3 separate regions of the Homo sapiens genome follow, and regions 2 and 3 are each linked to region 1. The links come from fine-mapping of genetic effects on gene expression. A gene starts in region 1. Each other region holds a variant in brackets. All regions are shown on one strand. Distances are between the middles of the regions. Region 1 holds the start of HACE1 (HECT domain and ankyrin repeat containing E3 ubiquitin protein ligase 1). Region 2 overlaps HACE1 (HECT domain and ankyrin repeat containing E3 ubiquitin protein ligase 1). Region 3 overlaps HACE1 (HECT domain and ankyrin repeat containing E3 ubiquitin protein ligase 1).

The links.
Region 2: its variant is fine-mapped to the expression of HACE1 in whole blood (TOPMed, PIP 0.96). The same link has a PIP of 0.9 or more in blood mononuclear cells.
Region 3: its variant is fine-mapped to the expression of HACE1 in thyroid (GTEx, PIP 0.97).

The regions. Positions count from the first base shown.
Region 1 is chr6:104,855,052-104,863,336 of GRCh38, forward strand. HACE1 (HECT domain and ankyrin repeat containing E3 ubiquitin protein ligase 1) reads right to left here and starts at 4,868. Exons shown (of 24, transcript NM_020771.4): 1 at 4,516-4,868. The coding sequence starts at 4,591. It also overlaps the pseudogene LOC100422315. RefSeq lists a silencer at 4,297-4,926 and enhancers at 4,549-5,048, 4,663-4,957.
Region 2 is chr6:104,807,084-104,815,368 of GRCh38, forward strand. It overlaps HACE1 (HECT domain and ankyrin repeat containing E3 ubiquitin protein ligase 1), which reads right to left. Exons shown (of 24, transcript NM_020771.4): 7 at 4,228-4,310. Among named protein-coding and RNA genes, the nearest start is that of HACE1, 49 kb to the right of the region's middle. The variant TA/T (reference allele first, on the strand shown) is at 5,037.
Region 3 is chr6:104,834,600-104,842,884 of GRCh38, forward strand. The region is part of intron 5 of HACE1 (HECT domain and ankyrin repeat containing E3 ubiquitin protein ligase 1); the gene reads right to left. Among named protein-coding and RNA genes, the nearest start is that of HACE1, 21 kb to the right of the region's middle. The variant T/C (reference allele first, on the strand shown) is at 3,276.

The DNA.
Region 1 (8,285 bases):
ACTATTATCCTCATTTTACAAATGAGAAAACTGAAGTACTAGTTAAGTAACAAGCTGTGTAACAGTGGCATTATGTGGCTGATTCCAGAGCCTCTACAAATAATATATCCTGGCTGGGTGCAGTGGCTCACGCCTGTAATCCCAGCACTTTGGGAGGCCAAGTCAGGCAGATCACAAGGTCAGGAGATCAAGACCATCCTGGCTAACAAGGTGAAACCCCATCTCTACTAAAAATACAAAAATTAGCCGGGTATGGTGGCAGGCACCTGTAGTTCCAGCTACTCGGGAGGTCGAGGTAGGAGAATGGCGTGAACCCAGGAGGCAGAGCTTGCAATGAGCCGAGATCATGCCACTGCACTCTAGCCTGGGCAACAGAGCGAGACTCCATCTCGGAAAAAAAAATAAAAAATAAAGATAAAAAATAAAAAGATAATATATCCTACAATGCACCCAGTATATACCACATAACCAGAAGGTCTACAATAGAATACTATTCTTAATATGTAAAATAGACTCTGTTTTATCCTCTTATATTTCTTTTTTTAAATGCTGACTGCAACCCACTAATTGCTCTCAGAAACTACCAATGAGTCACCACCAGGAGTTGAAAATACTACACTAAGCCTCCCTTGGCATGACAACATTCTTTATCGTTCATATAATAATACATGTCCCAATAAAAATCTGAACTTCTAAACCATGAGAATTTCCATTAAGTCACCCCATAATAAAGTCATAAAAAACACTGTTATTTGTGGGTTTAAACTTAAATCAAGATAAACTTTAAATCAAGATAGTGCATAATTTTAAGTGAGCGTTAGTGAGCATAATAAGGTTCACAATGGTTGTACTTGTAAGGTTTTTATTTTTTAGATAAAAATTAGATTTACATCTTAAGTCACATCTAACCTAAAGAAAAAAGTAGGTCACATACATTAACAGGTAAGTATGAAGAAATAAATCTAACCACAACTGTGGTGCTAGAAGAAGACTATCCAAGAAATACTATACTAAGAAAGGACAGAATACAATTTGTTGCCAGATACTTCCTTGTCTACTCTTGAAGACACCTTCAGGATTAGGTATATAATTAAAGTCTCCAGGGTGACAAGAAAAGTTTAATCTATCACTTTATTAGACATGTTTGCCATTTTTATCACTACAGTTTCAAAACCCAACTGTTAACAAAAAAAAGGTGCTCAGAGTAATTAATTATATACAATTTCTCTTCAAACCATCACATGGAGTAATTTTTTTAAACACAATTATCCCAATCACATATGCTAAAATGGGCTCAAATTTTATTATTTTATTAAACAAACTGCATTCACTATATAGTAGTTCAAACTTTACATACACTAACAACATACACCTTCCTTTTATTTATGTGTTTTTTTTTTGAGACTGAGTTTCGCTCTTGATGTCCAGGCTGGAATGCAGTGGCGCGATCTTGGCTCACTGCAACCTCCGCCTCCCAGGTTCAAGCAATTCTCCTGCCTCAGCCTCCCAAGTAGCTGGGATTACAGGCACCCGCCACCACATCCAGCTAATTTTTTGTATTTTTAGTAGAGCCGGGGGTTCACCATGTTAGCCAGCTGGTCTCACACTCCTGACCTCAGGTGATCCACCCACGTCGGCCTCCCAAAGTGCTGGGATTACAGGTGTGAGCCACTGCGCCCGGCCTCCAACTTTTAAACACTACTAAGAATCCATATCCCTAAAGTAATTTCTTACTCTTCACCTCTTTTTCTCTCAAGAATATTCCTGTGTTAGGCCTGCCTAGGAGGACTCAACTACCTGCACTCCATTACTTAGGGTAATACTCAGGTTTTCATCATCTCAAGGAAACATAGCATCCAACTCAGTTTATCAAACATCTATAGTTTCAACCTTTGCAACAAAATTAATTTTAGAGTACAAGCTGACTAAAAAGTTTACAAGTTTAATAGTTTGTTGTAATTAGATGCTTATTGATTACTGAATTCTAACAAAGCAAAAAAAATCTGATTATTTTCTAAATTTAGAGAGATCTCAGAGTTTCCATTCAGCTCTTAAAATGTAAGCACAAATGTGGATTTGTATCAGTAGGAATGTTATATATATATTTACATATATATATTTATTTACATATATATTTACATATATATTTACATATATATATATATATTCCTATATGTATGATATACTTTAAAGAGCCAAGCTCAGAGAATTCAAAGACTCATCAGAGCTTAGAGACAAAGATAAATTAAATTCAAGGAACAAAATGAACATTATAATCAAAGAAAAGCAAATGCAAACGATGCCATTTTTGCCTATGTGGAAAAGTTTTACTTTTACTAATAATACTCTAGTTTCTGGGCACTCTCGGACTGCTGGTGGAACTTTCCAAGGAGTAAGTTGAGAAACTGATATGTTGAGCCTTAGAAATGTATTGTAGATATTCTTCTTGTAAGAATTAACCCTAAGGAAGTATTTAGAGGCAGACTATGTCTTAAATACAAAGCTGTTTCTCATAAAATCAGTTTAAAAACAGTATTTAGATTCAACATTTGTTACATGCATCCTATGAAATTCTGAAGTCATTAAGCCTATTGAAGAATACAAAAAAAAAAAAACATTTGGGGCGGGGCACGGTGGCTCACGCCTGTAATCCCCCAGCACTTTGGGAGGCCGAGGCGGGCAGATCACGAGGTCAGGCGATCGAGACCATCCTAGCTAACACGGTGAAACCCCGTCTCTACTAAAAATACAAAAAATTAGCCGGGCCTGGTGGCAGGGGCCTGTAGTCCCAACTACTGGGAAGGCTGAGGCAGGAGAATAGCGTGAACCCCGGAGGCAGAGCTTGCAGTGAGTCGAGATGGCGCCACTGCACTCCAGCCTGGGCGACAGAGTGAGACTCCGTCTCAAAAAAAAAAAAAAAAAAGGATGTTTTCTAAACACAAAATAAAAGACTATATGCAACATGATTTTAACTTGTTAGGGAGGGAAAAAGAAATAACAATGGTAACACTGTTTATAACTGGATGGTGAAATGACATATTTTTTTCTATTTTTCTTTATTTTCCAAATTTTCTACAATGAAACTATATTACTTTTAAAACCAAGTAACATTATCAAAGTCTTCTAAATCACATTTATGTAAAAAATATCGGGATTCAAACTAGACAATATAAATTATACATGTAGTCTTCATAAAGCTATACCAATAATTCGACTACGAAAAATAAGTAAGAGTAGCACTTAAGAAATGGATTCAAAGGTGGAAGTTGGAAAGAAAATATAGAAAAAGTTGAAGCTAGAATCTAGTTACCAAAATCTGAATTCTAAATAGAGACTAGAGACCATTTTTTCAAGAAGATTATCCCCAGGCCAGGCGCGGTGGCTCACATCTGTAATCCCAACACTTTGGGGGGAGCAGGGTGCGGATCACTTGAGCCCAGGAGTTCAAGACCAGCCTGGGGAACATAGTGAGACCTCATCTCTATAAAAGAAAGGAAAGAAAATTATCGCCAAAGTACCCAATCCCACATTTCTTTCATGACCGTCTGCCAAGGTCTCCTTCCCTATCCTACAAACCACCCAGCAGCAATTCAAAGAGAGTTTTGAAAAAGTAAGATAAACTACTACAATTAAGAAAAAAGCTATTCACCAGCTACAACCTCCTCCCAACCCTTCTCTCACTTGGGCATAAAGAGCCAAAAGCTTCTTAGAAGCAGCACTGCTGTCTCCCATCACCACTAAAATGTCTGAATTCCTGACGCTGCAAACAAAACTGCTTATTTTCTCTCCTTGTTATTAGCAGAGTTTTACCTGTCCTGAGGGAACCCTGGCACGCTGAACTAAAAGTCCTGATCCTCAGGGACCATGCCTTATTCCTCTTTGCAGATGCGTCCTAGTTACCAGCTAGCCCACTCAATACTAGTCTGATGAATAAATGAAGAATGAAGGCAGGCATGCATATTAAAGAAAAATATATTGTGTTTACCCATACAGTACTTTAAGAGTACCTGTTTGATGTTTGACAACCCTTTGTTTGCCTGTTATCAAAACAAGGCAGTGCCCCACATTTTAAAAAATAACAAAAATAAAAGCCCGCCTGGCCCCCCGATGCAGCTTAAAGTAAACAGTATCTTTGGATCATCTCTATCCCCAGCTACTGTTAAATGACCCGCAATTATGATGTTTTCTGACTCCGGGTCTCGGGCCTCCGGCTGGTATTCCTGCCCCTTTGCCAAGACCCCTAATCGACAGACGTTGCGAGACCTTTGTCTCGCTCCTCCCAGCAGCGGAACCCCCACCAACCCAGTTTCCTCCCGAAAACTCCCACCTGCCGGGGTGGGAGCGTCGGGCCAGGGGAGTTCGGGGCCCGGGGCCGCCTCTCAGCTCTGGAAAGTAAAAGTGGGCGTTTTCTCAGCTTTCAGTTAGTTTTTCCACCCGACCTTGACGCGGCCGGAGCTCCTGCCCCACTGGCCGCCCCCAGCCCCGCGGCCAGCCTGGCCCCGCGACCCGGCTCACCCTCGGGCAACTCCACGGTGCGCGCGCGGCGCAGCGAGCGCGTCAGGCGGTTGAGTTGCTCCATCGCTCTCTCCATCCTCGGCGCGCCCTCCGCGATCCTCCGCGATCAGCCGCCCCACCGGCGGCCTCCGCGCCCAGAGCCCTACATCTCGCCTGGGCCCGTCCAGCAGGCGGAGACGCGGGCTTGCCCCGGCTAGAGCACTGAGCTGCGAGGGCTGCCTGGGGCCACGTCCTGCGTCCGGGGGCCGGGCTGCTGCCGGACCGACCACCTACAGTACACCCGCCGCCGCCTCTGCTCGCGCCTTTCCTGCAGCCCCCGCCGCCGCGTCCCTCCCGGGCTCGCGTGGCCTTCTGGGAACTGTAGTTTCCAGCTGGCAGAACGGAGCGCCCTGGGCGGAGTCACGTTGGGGGCGCCCAGGCCACGCCAACGCGGGCGCAGGGCTGAGTATGCGGGAAGCCACGCAGCGACTGGGCGTACTCCTAAGCTTCTGGAAAGGCATTCTCACGCCCTGCTCCTCCTACCCTCCTCCAAAGTTGTACAGGAGCAGTTTCCTCCAATTCTATAACTTTACTATAAAACAGATTAGAAATTGGCACAATTGTTCTTAAATCCGTCACCACCTTTCTAGTACTGTATTAGTGCCTTTGTTTCAGGTACCCTACATGAACTGTTTTAAGTATGGTATTTTCATATGTCAAACTTAAAGAGTAATAAAATCAAACAAATCCAAAAGCATATTGTGCTTTTGTCTTCATTGTAAATAACTTGACAATAGCTTAATTAGTTGTTTTTCCTGCCGGGCGGCTTTATGAGGGCAGGGACATTTAATCTTGAACTGTGTTGTATCCCTGTACTTAACAAGGCACCTAGCACAAAGTTAAAGCTCTGGGGAAGATATGAATGATGACAACCTGAAAAAATTTTTTCATTTATTTGGTACAATGCTAAAGTGTCTATGTGATGACACAGCCTAGTGGGAAATCCAAAGGATTTGACTTTGTAAGTTACAAAAAATTTGGATACCTACATTGTGGAAGAAATGAACTCAGTGGCGAAAAATCATATTCATAAGCTCTGCACAGAAGTTGAACACTTGAAACAACAGAAGTTGGAACTTCAAAAAATTAACCCAATCAAAGGGGTAAATGTGAGCCTGGCTAACACCAATATATCTTGGATATATTACCAGTGCCAAGATGATGCTGGAGTGAGGGAGAAACAAAAGGCTTGTCTTTTTCAGCTTCTCTTCCTCAAAGAGACAAAGCTGTTCCTGAAATGAATGGGCACATGTACGTTGATGATGTATGTTGGCTGGCCAAGTGAAAGAGAGTCTCACCTGCCCATTCAGGATATGAAGGGGCAGATGGTGGTTGGCATGTGTTTTCCCTGCCAGTGCCGTCCTAAATCAGTTCCAGCTAGTGACCATTTGTGCCAGTGGTGCCACAGGCACGGGGAAGACCTCTGTAATCTTCACCTAATCAGATGATACCTAAACCAGTCTGGCAACAAGGTGGTAGAGGTCAAAGTTTCAAAAGAATACCAGAGGCTGGGCGCAGTGGCTCATGCCTGTAATCCCAGCACTTTGTGAGGCCAAGGCAGGCGGATCACTTGAGGTCAGGAGTTTGAGACCAGCCTGGCCAACATGGTAAAACCCTGTCTCTACTAAAAATATGTATATACAAAAATTAGCCGGGCGTGGTGGTGTGCCTCTGAAATCCCAGCTACTCGGGAGGCTTAGGCAGGAGAATCGCTTGAACCCGAGAGACAGAGGCTGCAGTGAGCTGAGATCCTGCCATTGCACTCCAGCCTGGGTGACAGAGCGAGACCCTGTCTCAAAAAAAAAGGAAAGGAAGAAAGAAATACCAGACGTTATGGACCAGTCTAGCCCAGGCTCAACCATTTGCAACCTGGCTTCAACTAAAAATGTTCCAGTCTTGCTTGGCCTCTTATGCTATTCAAAAAGTCAGGATTCCCACTGCTGTACAGAAGTTGGCCCCTCAGCTTCTCTCAGCTGCTGTTATCACCATTGCTCTCTAGGCTGTTGCTCCATATAAATTACCTCCAACGTCCTGTGAGGACCAAGCCTGGAGTTTGTGGGCAGGGGTAGGAGCCCCCAGCAGCCTCCATGGTGGGCATTGCATCTCATGCTGGTCACTGTTCACCACAGGAGCAGAAGATAATGGAACAGGTAATGCTGATGTGAATTGTCAGTTCCAAATTCTGCAATATGATGCCGTCTCCCAATAGCTCTGCTTCAAAATGTATAAAGCTGCAGTACTACTATCAGCTTATCACCTCCTGTCCAACAGAACTTTCTGCAATGATAGAAATATTCTATAATCTGCAATGTCCAAAATAGCATCCACTAACCAAATGGGGTTACTGGGTGCTTGAAATGTGGCTGGTGCAACTGAATTTTAAATTTGTATTAAAGTATAAGTAATGAAACTAATTAAGTTAAATAGCTGTATGTGCCTTGTGGTTACCGTATTAGACAGGGCAACTTATCACACCAAGAAGAAAGCTGCCCAGGAGAACACCAAAACAGCTAAACAGCTTCTTATAGATTATTATTAGCTAAAGAGTAGATTTTCTCACCTGTCACCAACACCAAAAACATCAAGTGGAAGTTTCAAAAGGGCACTTTGTATCATAAGTTCCATTAACAAAAGCGTAGAGTTTTTCACTAATGATAACCCAGGTTCTTCTGTGGCCCAGACAGTTTCAACTTTCTTTTTTGTATATCTGGTATTTTTTTCTTCCTGGAAATTGGTTTTATTGAAGATTCCCAAGCATTAAGGGAAAGAGAAGAGAAAAACAATCTGTTCAACAAAAGGCAGGAAATGGGTGGGAAGCAAAGAAAAATGGTCATAAAAACAAAACATAAAGTAGCAGTAGAAATAAATCTAAATATATCCATGGTCACAGAAAATATAAACAGAGTAAACTCAATGTTTACTCTAAAACATAGAGGTCTTAGATAGTGTGTTAAAGAAAAATAAAAATGGAGGCCACAGTTTAGATATACCCAAGTCCAACTGTGTATAACCACAAACCAAAACTCATCATCCTCATTTCCCCAAAACACCATCTGTAATAATAAACACAAAACGCAAGGTTTATATCCTTGTCAGCATGATTCAGTGAAACTAAGCCAATCAGCTATAGACAAATCAGCTTAAATAGTTTCCCTAAAAAAATTAATGTATAACAGACAATCATGAAAAAAGGCCAAAGTACTTCATCTTTACGCTTTATAAACTGTACGGGAAATGCAGTAAGGCAAGCTTCTCAACACTGACTCAAAATATCCTGGATCGCAATTTGTACTTGATCTGATTTATTTCTTACATCTGAAAAGATCAAATAAAACAGCTATTTGCTGTTTCTAAGGGACCACCATTTCCAAAAGGAAATGGAAAAAAGGGATACCATAGAAAATATTAGCCAAATAAATGTGATATAAAAATATATCAGGGTTCTCTAGAGAAACAGAACCAGTAGAATGTGTGTATATATATGGAGAGAGAAAGAGATTTATTATCAGAAATTGACTCACGTGATTATGGAAGCTAGCAAATCCAAAATCTACAGTTTGGACCAGCGGTCTCAATACCCAAGAGACCTGATGATGCCATTCCAGTCAAAGGCCAGGGCAGCTAGTAAGACAGATGAAGTCTGGAGGCAGTCTGCTGAAAAATTCCCTCTTGCTGTTTCTTCTATTCAGGCCTTCAGCTGATTGGATGAAGCCCACCCATATTATGGAGAG
Region 2 (8,285 bases), 48 kb before region 1:
TGCAATCTCGGCTCACTGCAACCTCCGCCTTTCAGATTCAAGTGATTCTCCTGCCTCAGCCTCTGGAGTAGCTGAGACTACAGGCGTGCGCCACAATGCCCAGCTAATTTTTGTATTTTTAGTAGAGACGGGGTTTCACCATGTTGGCCAGGATGGTCTCAATCTCTTGACCTCGTGATCCACCCGCCTCAGCCTCCCAAAGTGCTGGGATTACAGGTGTGAGCCACTGTGCCTGGCCAAGTCTAAGAACTCTTTTATATGGCTACTTTGATTTTGAATACTCTAACTGAAACGAGTTGCTTCGCAGTAGCTACAAATCCATGTTCTAAATCTTAGCCCTTTCTGTCTCTAGTAGAGACCTCTAAAACTCCATTAACATCTTACTAATTTACTGTATCTATACAACTCTAACTAAACCTTGCTTTTCCTAATAGAATAAAAGTTATCTACAAACAGAAAATACCTGAAAACCATTATACATCCCAACCTTTATTTGAAGAACTCAGTTGAAGGAACTGAGAACATAAGGATTGAATATAAAACCAATCTAATAATTTCAGGATTTGAAATATTGGTAGAAGTCATATAAAAGACTTAAAGGTGTGTAAAGATGGCAGGGGGAAAAAAAAATCAATGTGTGCCTATATTTTACATGACAGAAGGAATGAGTTAATTAGTTATATAGTTTACATGAGTTATAATGTCCTGTCCAGAGTATCCAGAGAAGAAAACTGGCTGGAAAACCCTTTCTATCATAATTTTAGGTCAAAATCCATCTGAAAAAGACTCACAGAAACACTACATTATAAAACAGTGCCCAGGGCCAGGCACGGTGGCTCACGTCTGTAATCCCAGCACTTTGGGAGGATGAGACAGCCAGATCACCTGAGGTCGGGAGTTCGAGACCAGCCCAGGCAACATGGCAAAACGCCATCTCTACTAAAATATAAAAATTAGCTGGGTGTGGTGGCGCATGCCTGTAATGCCAGCTACTCGGGAGGCAGAGGCAGGAGAATCGCTTGAAGCCAGGAGGCAGAGATTGCAGTGAGCCAAGATCACGCCACTGCACTCCACCCTGGGCAACAGATTGAGGCTCTGTCTCAAAAATTAAAAAAAAAAAAAGTGCTTAGAATTAGACAAGAAACAAAAGAAAACCCTGTAGAGCAATTAAATTAAATGAGGACAACACGACTTTATGCTCACTGAAGAGTGAAAGAAGTATGTCAGAACTTAGTGAGCACCTATCAACTACTAAGTGTTGAATACTCTGCAGCATGCTTTATAGAAGCCATCACATTTAATCTTCACAATAATCTCACCAGGCAGATATCAGCACTTCCATTTCACAAACAAACAAAGCTTCAGGGATCAAGAATTTTGACTAATGTTGTATAGCTCTGGTGCTGGGATTTGAACCTGCCTACACAAACTAGGTTCTTTCCCCTGTATCTTAATACCATTCTAAATTTAATTGCAAAATTCAAATACAAAGAAAACAGTTTCAGTAGTTGACCCTTGAATATGATATAATATATTATATCTAGTAATACTTATCAACCAATAAAAACTATACATTCCATTTAACCTTTATCTTAGAGCCCTATAATTTGTCCTGGGGTTAACTTGTTCTATTTCCTATATTCCTTTCCCTTTCATTTATCAGAAATAACACATTGGGAATAACTTATATTTTTAATTTATACCTGTATCAAGATATCACAAGTAAAATTAAAAGTGTGCCTGCAGAAGAACCATGTTCCATATCTATTATTCTTCTACAACAATGATTTTTTGGTTTCACATTTCATCACAGACTTGCTTAACCATCTTTGTTCAAAAAGATCTAATATTTGCTAGATTAAAACTAAATGATGGGAATACAGTACTAGGAGAAAGTATTTCTTAAAAATCCTTCTGCCATATCCCTAAGCTCAGACTAACCATAGGGATATCCCAGTTCTGCACAACACTAACATGTCTCTATTTTAACTATTATAAATGGCATTGTTTTTTATAAGATATTTTTCATAGTGATGCATTCATTCAAAAACATCTACTATGCATCTAAGTGCAAAACACTGTACTACACTTTGGACATAAAGTGGTAAAATAAACACTATTCTTGCTTTCACTGAATTTTTAGGCATGTAGGGGAGACAGACTATAAGAAAGTAAATAAACAACTACAGAATAGGAAGTGCTATGAAGGAAATGACTGTGATACTGCGATCAAAAATCTGGGGAACGACCTGCTTAGATTGGTCAGGAACTGCCTTCCTAAAAAGTTACTTAATTAAGCAGTAACATGAATAAGAAATAGCCCTGTAAAAAGCCTAAGGAAGAACATTTCAGGCAAAACAAATACCATGTAGAAAAGCCTGCTGAAAGAGTTGGTTGCATTTAAGGAACGCAAAGAGAATCACTGTGGTTCAAGTACAGTGAGCTAAACAGGAGTGAAATCATGGAGGTCTCACAGGCCAAGGTAGAACTTGAATTATATTTAAAATGTAACAACGAGGCACTGAAAAGTTTTATATACAAGGCTTAAACACAAAGTAACAAGAGCAGATTCTTTTTTTTTTTTTTTTTTAAGATCACTTTGCTGAGGAAAGAAGAGATTGGAGGGAAACAACATAGGAATCAGGGAGACCAGTGAAGAGATTACTGCAGTACTCTAGGCAAAAGGTAACAACATTAAGGTGGTTTTGGTTGAGTTAGAAGTTCAGATTCCGAACATATTCTGAAGGTAGAATTTACAGAACTTACTAATAAATTCCAAGTTCACAAAGAGAGAGAGAGAGAAATAAAAAATAACCTAATTATTTCTAATTTAAACAACTGAGACAATAAGGTTTCTATTGATTAAGATGAGGAAAAACTGGGGGAAAGGTTTGAGGAAGAAAATCTGAAGCTGTATTTTGACATGTTAATATGTGAGATTCTGTGGTACTTCTAAGTGATGATGTTAAACAGGCAGATGGACATTCAAATCTGGAGGTTCAAAAAAGGTCTGATCTAAAGATAACCCTTCAAGATACAACATGATTACAGGGAATCAAATGATGATATTATTCATAAATTCAGGACACTATGGAAAGAACTGGTTTTCTAGCCAAGCAACCAAATCATAAATATAATGCAAGAAAATGGCTGGAATCAGAAAGATCTGGAAGTCTAGAAACCCAGAAGCCCCTGAATTCTAATACAGGGTTGTTAAATAGATGATCTGAATTGGTCTCATCAAAGGCACATCAGAGACCCCAACAAGAAGCTAAACAAGAAAAAAAGCAGGTCTTTCAACCTAAAACCAACTTCCAATAAAATGATATAAAACAGAAAAAAAGAAGAAGAGAGGAGCTTTCTGGAGAGCTCTATATCGGAATATGAAGGCCTAAATAAATATTACAATTCATATAATTTAAATCAAAAAGAAGAATTACTATAGTATTCTATAACTACATTTACATAATACATAATATGTAGGTGTGTATATATTTTTACATATGTGTGTGGGTGTGGGTGTGACGGCATGTGTATAATTATACTGATAGCTCCTTAGGGAATAGAGTTTATTTATTACTGTATTACACACCTACAACAATGCATGACACAGTGAGCGTTAACTAAACATTTGCCGAATACATGAATAAGTGAACAAAATGTACACGTCAAGAAAATGAACCAATAAAGAAATACAAAAATAACTTAATGTATAACAATATCTAACAAGACTGACTCAAGATTTTTTTTTGGTTATAGATACAGAGAAAGAAAAGACATGGCTCTGGATCAAGATATATTCCAACAGCTTATCCCACTGGAAATGACCTGGTTACATAACACAGTAAACGATGGGAATTACCAGATTACTGATTTATCTTTTGTTAATAAGTACTTAGTCTAAAATTGAAGTAATCAAGCAAATCAAAAGCTCCACATGTAACATAAAAGCAATGGCAATTAAATATAACAGAAAATACTTTTCCTCATACAGTTAAGTAATAGAACCATAACACTTCATCTTAAAAAAGAGATTGTACTTCCTCTTAAAAGACAGCATATTTGTGGGAAAACAAGAGAGCTTTAGAAAATACACAGAAACGTGTGTGTCTAGAAATAGAGTATTATATACATCTGGAAATATATATATTTCTTTATTTATACATATATATATATATATATATATATATGAGCATATATAGCATCTGGAAATATAAAATATCATACCTGCAAGCAAAGTACAATGGAGTTGCTCCTGATACATTTGGCCTGTTAATATCAGCACCACTGTCTAGCAAGCACTGCACTGTCTGAGGGGGAAAAAATAATTAAAAGTAAAGCCAGAGGAATCAAACAAAAGATACAATTACCACAATTTTAATCCATATAAGGGAAGTTCTTCCCACAACTTGAAGCTTTACATAGGAACTGAGTGGGCACGTGACAATTACTATGGCTGAGCAAATTCAACTTTTTGTAAGCTCTAAGTGTCTCAGGCACAACACACATATATGTGGAATTATCAGTGTAATAGAAACTGTGTTAATCTGGGAGTCTTTAGAGCAGCACTGTATCAAAAGTAGTCAGTAGTTACATATTGGCTACCAAGTACTTGAAATGTGGCTAGTACAGCTAAGGAACTAAAATTTTAATTGTATTTAATTATAGCTCATTTGAATCTAAATAGCCACATGTGGCTAGTGAATTGGACCCTATTGCTTTAGATACTTGAATTTAAATTGCTTTAAATACCAGAATTTTTCACCTCTAAAAAACTAAGCACCAGAATAATAACTTTCCCAAAGTCAAGAGCATAATTATTAAAATATAAAATTTTAAAAAGCTAAGAAGCCCTTTTGCTATTAACAGTAGCATATACAGGCTCAATTTCACTGATTGCCATTAATATATACTTAGCCCCCTAAGCTCTACTCCTCTAATCATTTGACTCATACTAAGAGAGAGTACGCTACTATAAAATCTTAAAAATACATATCTGTTGATTAAGGACAGGACAGGGCCCAGTTGAAAACCTT[TA/T]AAAAAAAAAACTTTCATGGTTTTATTCCTAAAATCCTCATTTGAGTTTTTCCTGCAAAAAGGAAGAAAATGTAAAAACATAAAACATGAGGCAATAGGTGGCTTGAGGCCAGTAGTTTGAGACCAGTTTAGTCTACATAGTGAGACCCCATTTTTACAAAAACATTAAAAAATGAGCTAGTCATGGCAGCACATCATAGTAGTAGGCCTAGCTACTCAGGAGGCTGAGGTGGGAGGATCATTTGAGCCCAGGAGTTCAAGGCTACTATGAATTATATTACACCACTGCACTCCAGCTTGGGCAACAGAGAAAGACCCCATGCCTTAAAAAAAAACAAAATAGTTTGAAATTAGACGCTTATTACTTCTGGATTGAACACATCTGTTCATCTTTTTTGCCGCTTTTAAACAAAGTACAATGTCAGTAAAATAATAAAACTAAACACCCAAAGGAAGAACAAGAAAGAAAACAACAGCATACTGGATAAGTCAGTAAGTTTTGGAAAGATAGCAAGCAAATGGAGAAATAGTAACTGACTTAGCAGATCAAAGAAAGCTGAAGTCTAACTGCCCACAAATGGGGATTCCAACAATAAGCAACTCAATTCTTACTACAGAACACACACATTAAGAAAACAAAAAAGGAATAGAGGAATTGGAAGTACCAGGTACCTTGGAATATAGGAATGGTTATGTAGAGCTAAAAATAGGAGGAATAGTTGAAAGTCAATAGAAGAAACAGACTCTCCCCCTAGGACCTTTCTTCCCATCCTATCCAGTTAGTTACTATCCCTCTTTACACTGTCTCAGAAGATGGGAAGTTTATTCTCTGCACAAAGTGAACAGGGAGGCTCTGGACTGGGAGACAAGACACACAGGTAGAGCAAAGATGAGGAGCCATCGTGAAAACAACAAATTAAGTGAAAACCTCCAGCCTCCATGTTCCAACTAGGCTCCCAGAAATCCAGCAGGCAGGCTTAAAAATCTCAAGTAGAAGGAATTAAAAGCTTCCTCTCAAGACTTGCATCAGAAAAGAATCTTACAGATATTGGCATTAGAAAGTCCCCAGTGAAACAGCTCAGTTCATCCAGACATGGTGGCTCATGCCTGTAATTCTAAGACTTTGGAAAACCAAGGTGGAAAGATCATTTAAGGCCAGGAGTTCAAGACCAGCCTAGGCAATTTAGAGAGATCCCATTTCCACAACAAAATTTTAAAATTAGCCATGCATGGTGCTGCATGCAAGACGCTATCTGTAAAGCAAGACCCTATCTCTAAAAAGAAACAAAAATTAAAAATAAAGAAACAGCCCAATTCGGGACAATGGGTCTATAGCAGTCATCCCCAACCAAGGTTAAATTTTCCCCTGGGAACATGAGGCAACTTTTTTATTTTCATGACCAGGGAAGGGAAAATGCTATTGGCAGCTAGTGGGTAGAGGTCAGGGATGCAGCTAAATATCCTAAAATTCAGATGACAGCCCCCACAACAAAGAATTATCAGATCCAAAATATCAACAGTGTTGAGACCAAGAAACATTGGTGTACAGTCAAACCAAGTAGTCAACAAACTCAACTCATGTACACAACGCTTCCAGCCAACATTTGAGTGCCTCACCATTACACATGAATGAACAGACAATATTAAAAATACAACTGAAGCAGGCCTCTAACCTGAAAAACAAAAATTACAACTGAAAAATGAAACTCAGAATAACAAAGACAGTAAAGGGAACCAAAGAAAACAACAAAAATTAGAAAAGTAACTGATAACCTCGAACAGAAAAGAAATTATACCATGGAATGATAAAAGGATGTTGGGTAGAAAATATTTAGGAAATGAGAAATCAAAAATACAATGCAATAAATAAAAATTCAACAGAAGTTTAAAAAGAAAATGTTCAGGAATTCTACAAAGTAGAATAAAAAGACAAAGTAGAAAATAGGAAAGATGAGAAAATTTGTGAATCAATCAAGGGAGACATACTGCAGAAAATAAGAATAAAGAAAAGAAAGGGGGTGAGGGACCAAAGGGGAATAACCAAGAAATAATACCAAAAAAGTTCCCAGAACTGAAAGACATCAGGTGCCAGGTTTAAAAGGCTCAACACGTGTCTAGTCTATTAAATCAAAAGACCTTCAACGAGGCATGTCAAAGTGAAATTTCATGATAACATCAGGGATAAGAGATTCCAGAGATAAACAGAAATCATGTGGGCATTAAAACTTCTCAACAGCAACACAGAAATCTAAAAGGTAAAAAGCCTTCAAAATTGTAAGATAAATTATATGCAGAATTCTATAGCCAACTACACTATTATTCAAATAGATGGTTATAAATAAAAAACATGTTTAACTATTTTATAAGATTTTTTAAATTATCTTCAATGCACCTTTTCTCAAGAAGCTACTGAAGCATATCCTCCTCCAAAGAAAGAGAATAAACCATAATAGAAGATATGGAATCTAGAATATGGAGATCAAACATGGGAGAGACACTAAGATTATTTCTAGGTTTAGAGGGTGATATGGGTTGGATTTGTGTCCCTGCCAAAATCTCCTGTTGAATTGGAGGAGGGACCTGGTGAGAGGTGACCAGAGCATGGGAGCAGATTTCCCCCTTGCTGCTCTCATGAGAGCTCATGGTTTAAAAGTGTGTGGCACATCCCCCCTCACGCTCTTTCTCCCTCTCTCCTGCCACCATCTGAAGAAGATGCTTGCTTCCCCCTTTGCCTTCCACCATGATTGTAAGTTTCCTGAGGCCTCACAGTCATGCTTCCTGTTAAGCCAGCAGAACTCTGAGTCAATTAAACATCTTTTCTTCACAAATTACTCAGTCTCAAGTAGTTCTTTATATCAGTGTGAAAAATTGACTAATATAGAAAATCAGTACCAGGAGTGGGACACTCCTATAAAGACACTTGAAAATGTGGAAGCGACTTTGGAACTGGGTAAGGGGCAGAGGTTGGAACAGTTTGGAGGGCTCTGAAGAAGACAGTAAGATGTGGGAAAGTTTGGAACTTCCCAGAGACTTGTTGAATGGTTTTGATCAAACTGCTGATAGTGATATGGACAATGACGTCCAGGCTGAGGTGATCTCAGATGGAGATGAGGAACTTATTGGCAACTGGAGTAAAGATCACTCTTGCTATGCTTTAGCAAAAAGAAACTGGAAGCATTTTGCCCCTGCCCTAGAGATCTGTGAAACTTTAAACTTGAAAGAGATGAATTAGGGTATCTGGTGGAAGA
Region 3 (8,285 bases), 20 kb before region 1:
AAAGAGTATTTCCTTAAAAGACTAGATCCATAAAGATACAGAGGAGAGAACAGCAAGTTTTGGAAGCAAAGAAAGTAGATGATGCTTTTTATCTTGTCAGATTATACTTGTTGACTTGTCAGAATGCTACACCAGTATTAGAGAAACCCCCCAAAAAATGTGATTCAGATCACAGGACTCCCAAAAGGCTCAAGAATCAATAGTAAGTACCATGCACCTCTTGAAAAGAGGTTGAAAGTTTATTTAATAAGATTTAGAGCCTCATATCTCTACCCCTCCCCAACTGTGCAAGGCCAGTAATGGCCCCCACTCAACCAGATAGAATGCAAGAGGCTTGAAAACAGTCTCTAGATAAGAGACAACAGGCACATTGAACAAAGAATACCACACTAAAAAGGGGAGATTAAGTGCAAGTTTAAATATTGAATATTGATTTTACAAAGCATTCTTCTCTATCCAGCACGCAGACTGTTAACATCTTCCGGGCAGTTGGAAGAGTCTTCTCTGAGGAATATGACCAGTTCAAGAGTAAATGCCTAAAGAAATCGACACTGGAAAGGTCTAAGAGGCAAATGTCCAAGGAGATCATCCTACACTGAAGCCTCTAGTGAACAAAGCCTCACTCATGCTGACAGCCTTCAAATAGCTTTTTCCATTTCCACCAAACATCTGATAAACGCATCTAATTTGAAAGACAAACTACAAATTTTTTTAAAGCAAAAAGTAGGGGGAAAAAGGAACCATGAATATTCAAGAAAAAACTATATTTAATACTGTCAGAGGGAGAACATACTGATTGCATCCCTGAAATGAGAAAAGGATACTATTTTTTGAAAGAGACAAGGAAAAAAAACTCTTGGAAATTAATACTATGATAGAGACGTGCAAACTCAAAACAAGAATTAGGAGATAATATTGAGGAAGTCTCCCTAAAAGTACAAAGAAAAGAAATGAGAAAAAGTAGGAAAATTAAAGGGCTAGTGTGAATAGGTCTAACATTTAAATAATAGGAGTTGGGGAAAAAATAAAACAGAGAAAAGACAGAAAAAGAAATCATGAAAGTAATAATTTATGAATATTTCTCATAAGTTCCTATTACATGAGTTTCCAGGTTGATAGGGTCTCAATATTATCCATCGAAATGGATAAAATAAATCCAAAGCAAGACATAATAATCACAGGATTTTAGAACACTAAGGACAAAGTAGATTCTATAAGTTTCTAGAGAGAAAAATCAAAACAGGTTTCATATAAAGAATCAAGAATCCAAATAGCACTAAACTTCAAAACAAAGCTAGAACACAACAAAGCAATGCTTTCAAAATTCTAAGGAAAAATGATGTCTTGTCTAGATTGTCAGCTAAACTGTCAATTACATAATCAGACTCAAAGACTCAAGTCATATCAAACATGCAAGGTGGCAACACATCTCCCATGCACACTCTCAGGAAACTCTCAGGGTTGTGCTCCATCAGAGTGACAGAATAGTTATCAGAAAAGATGGATATGAGACCCATATAACAAGAGAACCCAAAGCAAGAAAAAAGCAAAAGGAATCCCCAGATGATGAGACATTCCAAACAACTGTGCAGCAGACCTAGGTATCAACCAATCCAGCCAAGAGAGCACAGAAGTCTCCGTAAGAGACTCCTTCAAGACATAATCAAGCACATGAAAGGTACTGAATACATATTAAGAGGATATTTACAAAGCTGAGAGAGACCTTGGAATTGAATTAGTAAAAAGTTATAAGAAAACTTTAAAGTAATAAAGTTGCAGTAGGGCAAGAAACAAATACAAAAGACATACAAACTGCGAAGAAAGAAATAAAGGCCTGGCGCGGTGGCTCACACCTGTAATCCCAGCATTTTGGGAGGCCGAGGCGGGTGAATCACCGGAGGTCAGGAGTTCAAGACCAGCCTGGCCAACAAGGTGTAACCCCGTCTCTATTAAAAATACAAAAATCAGCTGGGCATGGTGGCACACACCTGTAATCCCAGCTACTAGGGTGGCTAAGGCAGGAGAATTGCTTGAATCCAGGAGGCAGAGGTTGCAGTGAGCTGAGATTGCGCCACTGCACTGTAGCCTGGGTGACAGAGTGAGACTCTGTCTAAATAAATAAATAAACAAATTACTGTCTCTACGTGCAGACAACATGACTGTCTATGTAGAAAATCTCAAGCAATTTGCCCAAAGTCCCCCAGAACTAATAAGTGAGTTCAGCAAGATTGCAAAACCAAAAACCAATTGCATTTCCATCTGAACATGCATAAACTCAAATTAAAAACACAAGGCCATTTATAATTATGCCAAAGAAAATGAAACAGTTATATGCTTACCAAAACATGCACAAAATCCCCACTGTGCTGTACAAAATTCTAATGAATAAAATCAAAGACCTAAGTAAGTGTGGAGATATACTGTGTTTATGGATTAAAAGACTCAATCAACACAGTAAAGATAACAATTCTCCCCAAATTGACCTATCAGTTTAAAGCAACTCCAATCAAAATCCCAGCAAGGTTTTTTTGTAGACACAGACAAGTTTATTCTAAAATTTATATGGAAAGGCAAAGGAATCAGAATGGCTAACACAATCTTGACAAAGTGAGAGGAATTATTCTACCTGGTATTAAGACTTACAGCTACAGTAATCGAGACAGTGTGGTATTAGCAGAGAGATTAGCAGAGACACACAGATCAGTGGAATGAATATAAAGTCCACAAGTGGGTCCACACAAATATGCCCAACTGATTTTTGAAACAGATGCAAAAGCAAATTCATGTAGGAAGGACAGCCTTTTCAACAAACAGTGCTAGTACTGGACATTCATAGGCAGAAAAAAAAGAGTAAACCTTGACCTAAGCCTCATAACTTATGCAAACAGTAACTCAAAAGAGATCATAGACTTAAATGTAAAACACAGAAACATAAAACTTGTAGAAAAAAATATATGAGACAATCTTCAGGAGTGAGTGCTAGGCAAAGAGTTCTTGATACCAAAAGCATGATCCATAATGCAAAAAACTGATCAATTTGACTTCAAAGTTAAAAAACTTTTGCTCTTCAAAAGACCCTCTTAACACCACTATTAGAAACAGTACTGGAAGACCTAGCTAGAGCAATCAGGCAAAAGAAAGAAATAACGGACATTCATATTAGAAAGAAAGATGTCAAATTATTCTTGTCTGCAGATGATATGATCTTGTATTTGGAAAAACTTAGACTCCACCAAAAAACTGTTAGAACTGGTAAATAAGTACGTTGCAAAATA[T/C]GAAATCAACATGCAAAAATCAGTAGCATTCTGATGTCAGCAGCAAACAACCTGAAAAAGAAGTAAAGAAAGTAATCCCATTTATGACAGCTACAAATAAAATAAAATACCTAGGAATCAACTTAACCAAAGAAGTGAAAGATGTCTAAAAGAAAACTATAGAAAAAGATGCAAGAAACTGAAGAAGACACACACACAAAATGGAAAAATATTCCTAAGGGTTGGAAGAATCAATACTGTCAAAATGTCCATACTACTCAAAGCAATCTATAGATTCAATGTAATCTCTATCAAAATACCAATGACATTCTTCACAGAAACAGAAAAGATAATTCTAAAATTTATATGGAATCACAAAAGATCTAGAATAGCAAAAGCCATCCTGAGTAAAAAGATCAAAACTGGAGGAATATCATTACCTGACTTCAAATCATACTACAGAGCTATAGTAACCAAAACAGCATGTTACTGGTATAAAAACAGACACACAGACCAATGGGACAGAACAGAGAACCCAGAAATAAATCCACACATCTACAGTGAACTCATTTTCTACAAAGGTGCCAAGAACACACATTGGAGGTAGGGACCATCTCTTCAATAAATGGTGCGGGAAAACTGGATATCCATACACAAAAAATGAAACTAGGCTCCTATATCTCTTGCCATATACAAAAATCAAACAAAAATTAATTAAAAACTTAAATCTAAGACATGAAACTACTAAAATAAAACACTGGGGAAACTCTCCAGGACATTGGTTTGGGCAAAGCTTTCTTGAGTAATACCCCTTGAGCAAATTTCTTGAGTAAATTTGCTTTTAAGTAAAAGCAAAAGTAACCAAAGCAAAAACGGACAAATAGGATCACTTCAAGTTAAAACACTTTTGCACAGGAAAGGAAAAAATCAACAAAGTAAAGAAACAACCCATAGAATGGGAGAAAATAACTGCAAACTATCCATCTGACAAGGGATTAATAACCAGAATATATAAGGAACTCAAACAACTCCATAGTAAAAAAAAAAAAAAAAAAAAAAAAAATTTTGATTAAAAAAAGAATGAAAGATCTGAGTAGACACTTCTCAAAAGTAGACATACAACTGGAAAACAGGTATATAAAAAGGTGCTCAACATCACTGATCATCAAAGAAATGCAAACCAAAACTACAATGAGGTATCATCTCACCCCTATTAAAATGGCTTATATCCAAAAGACAAGCAATAAGAAATGCTGGCAAGGATGTCAAGAAACAGGAACTATCATATGTTGTTGGTGGGAATGTGAATTAGTATAGCCACTACGGAAAACAACTGCATTCCTGGACATTTATCCCAATGTGTACCCTGCTGTTTTTAACAGCTTTACTCATAATAGCCTCAAACCAGAAGTGAACCAAATGTCTTTTAACAGGTGAACAGTCCAACAAATGGTGGTATATCCACTACTGGATGGAATACTATTCAGCATTATAAAGGAACAAACTATTGATAAGTATAACCTAGATAAGTCTCCAAGGAATGTGACAAACAAAAAAAGCCAATCCCCAAAGGTTCCATACAATATAGTTCTATCTCTGTAACATTCTTGAAATGACTAATGGAGAACAAATTAATGGTTGCTATAGGTTAGCCATGGGATGTGAAGGACAAAGGGAAAGGTATGGTTATAAAAGGGCAACATGACATATCTCTGTGGTGTTAGAAATGTTCAGAATATTGACTATGGTGGTGAAAACCTACCATGTACACAGGTAATAAAACTACACAGGTAACCTACACAAGTAATAAAAATGAATAGAACTTAAAATACATAAACATACACACACACATACAATTAAAACTGAGGAAGGCCAGGCATGGTGGCTCACACCTGTAATCCCAGCATTTTGGAAGGCCAAGGCGGGTAGATCACCTGAGGTCAGGAGCTCAAGACCAGCCTGGCCAACATCGTGAAACCCCATCTCTACTAAAAATGCAAAAATTAGCTGGGCATGGTGACGCACACCTGTGGTCCCAGCTACTCGGGAGACTGAGGCAGGAGAATTGCTTGAACCCAGGAGGCGGAGGTTGCAGTGAGCTGAGATTGCACTACTGCACTCTAGCCTGGGCAACAGAGCGAGACTCTGTCTCAAAAAAATAAAATAAAATAAAACTGAGGAAATCTCAGTAAGACAGATTGTATCAATGTCCATGTCCTTACTGTAATATTATAGTATAGTTTTGCAAAATGTTACCACTGGAGGAAACTCGGCAAAAAGTGCAGGGCAACTCTCTCTCTCTATTATTTCTTAGCACTGCATGTGAATCTACAATTATCTTAATTTCTAAAAAAAGACAATCATTAACTACAGGGAAAATAAAATGTTATGCAAGAAAGGAAAGCAACTATAACCAACTATTTGGCTTAACTATGAATAGTTTTCGTGTACTCAAAAAAATAATAACACACAAAAATGATCTAACTAAAATTACAATAATTGTATTGGAGGGATACAAGGCTAATGTGCTTATACACCACAGGGCGGGAGGAGGGGCTGAAAAAGAGAACAATAGCCTCATCTTCCAGAAAGTCAACAGGTGATACCTAAAACCAAAAAACCAGGAAGTAGCATTTAGCATGCTATTTAGATATAGAGACAACATTTTAAAATCCATTAAAATAGCTGAGAGAGGCCCGTCGCGGTGGCTCACACCTGTAATCCGAGCACTTTGGGTAGCCAAGGCGGGTGGATCACCTGAGGTCAGGAGTTCGAGATCAGCCTAGCTAACCTGGTAAAACCCCGTCTCTATTAAAAATACAAAAAAAGGCTGGGCGCGGTGGCTCACACCTGTAATCCCAGCACTTTGGGAGGCCAAGGCGGGCAGATCACCTGAGGTCAGGAGTTCAAGACCAGCCTGACCAACATGGAGAAACCCCGTCTCTACTAAAAATACAAAATTAGCTGGGCGTGGTGGCACATGCCTGAAATCCCAGCTACTCAGGAGGCTGAAGCAGGAGAATTGCTTGAACCCGGTAAGTGGAGGGTGCAGTGAGCCAAGACAGCACCATTGCACTCCAGCCTGGGCAACAAGAGTGAAACTCTGTCTCAAAAAATATTAGCTGGGCATGGTAGCAGGCGCCTATATTCCCAGCTACTCGGGAGGCTGAGGCAGGAGAATCACTTGAACCCGGGAGGTGGAAGTTGCAGTGAGCTGGGATTGCGCCATTGCACTCCAGCCTGGGCAACAGTGAGACTCTGTCTCAAAAAAAAAAAAAAAAATAGCTGAGAGAAGTTGTTTAGGGAGTGGGAAGTTTGGAGGTTGGGGAGGAAGGCCAAGAGACTGTTTTCTACAAGCCAGGTAGAATATTTGATTCTTTAAATACATACATGAATAATTTTGTTAAATAAAAATTTTATTTTTACAAATTTTCTATTCCACCTCCCTTAAAGTACAGGAAGGAAGGGAAGAAATTAACAGAAAACATCTTATGCAATTAAAACAGATTATATTAACATTCAACCATCATGCCTAAACTGGTTAGTGTCCTAAGGAAAGATCTATGTCATTTCTAGGGTTTCATAACCCTCTGTTGCACGTACCGTGTCACTAAGCATCCTACGGATATTCAGAATACAGTCTTTCCTTACAGAATAGGTGGTATTATATTATTAATACATAACAAAATCTGAATTTTTACAGGAATTGTAGATTCCATATAATAATCATGATTGAGTTTATTCTATAATAAGCCATTCAAAATTTTAGGAAAGTTGTTTTTCTATACCTCATTCCCCAATTTTTAATCATAAAGGCCTTGAAAACCAGCATGGTAAGTAAATATTCAATATTATTCTTTATTCAAAAATTAAAAGATTCAAAATATAAATACTATCAAAGGAATGTATAATTTAATAAATAAAACTTAACATTTTCTGCCATGATTTCAAAACAACTACTCAACAGTAACATAATTCTATGTTATCTCTACTTCTAAAATTAATAATGCTCCATTAAATAATGACAATTTGGTTAAAACTTTGGGATTTCAACAATCTCTTCAGCAATATCCCATACCACCTCCATGTGATTCAAAAATACATAAACTTATTTTTGCAAAGAAAGTGGTATGGCAAAATGGCCAATACTACTTTATATAAAATATAAGTCTAATAACAGGACAAAATGTTAACAGTAATTTTATCTTTGGGATGCAGAAGTGAAAGGATTGCTTGAGGCCAAGAGTTCAAGACTAGCCTGGGCATCAAAGCAGGACCCCACCTCTACAAAAAAATATAAAATATACTAGCCAAGGGTAGTGAGACACACCTATAGTCCCAGCTACTTGGAAGGATGATGCTGGATGATTTCTTGAGCCCAAGAGTTTGAGGTTGCAGTGAGCTATGATCATGCCACTACACTGCAGCCTGGGTGACAGTGAGACCCTGTCTCTAAAAAAAGGTTTTATTGGCCGGGCACAGCAGCTCACACCTGTAATCCTAGCACTTTGGGAGGCCGGCGGGTGGATCACCTGAGGTCAGGAGTTCAAGACCAGCCTGGCCAACGTGGTGAAACCCCGTCTCTACTGAAAATACAAAAGTTTTTTTTTTTTTTAACCGTGATTATCTCAGAGTGCAAGGAATACAGGGAGTGCTCATTCCCTCTGTTACCTTTTTTATTCCTTTCTGACTAGCTATCTAATTCTACAATGAACATATTAAAAGTATTTAAAAGAACATAACGAAAAACAGCTCTCCAAGAATGAACACATAACACACCTCAGCAGAGATGCTCCTAGGAAGTCCCTTAAAAGTCAGTGACAAAGGCTAGGGGAATAAGCTTCAAAATAAACAAAAGTCATAAACTTAAAAAGGAGAAGAGAGAAATATGGTAAGCCATAACTTATCTTAATATAGCTTAAAACTTTATCTCAAATCATTCTACACCTTCTTAATCCCTATAAAGAAGTAACACAGGCCAGGTGCGGTGGCTCACGCCTATAATCCCAGCACTTTGGGAGGCTGAGACAG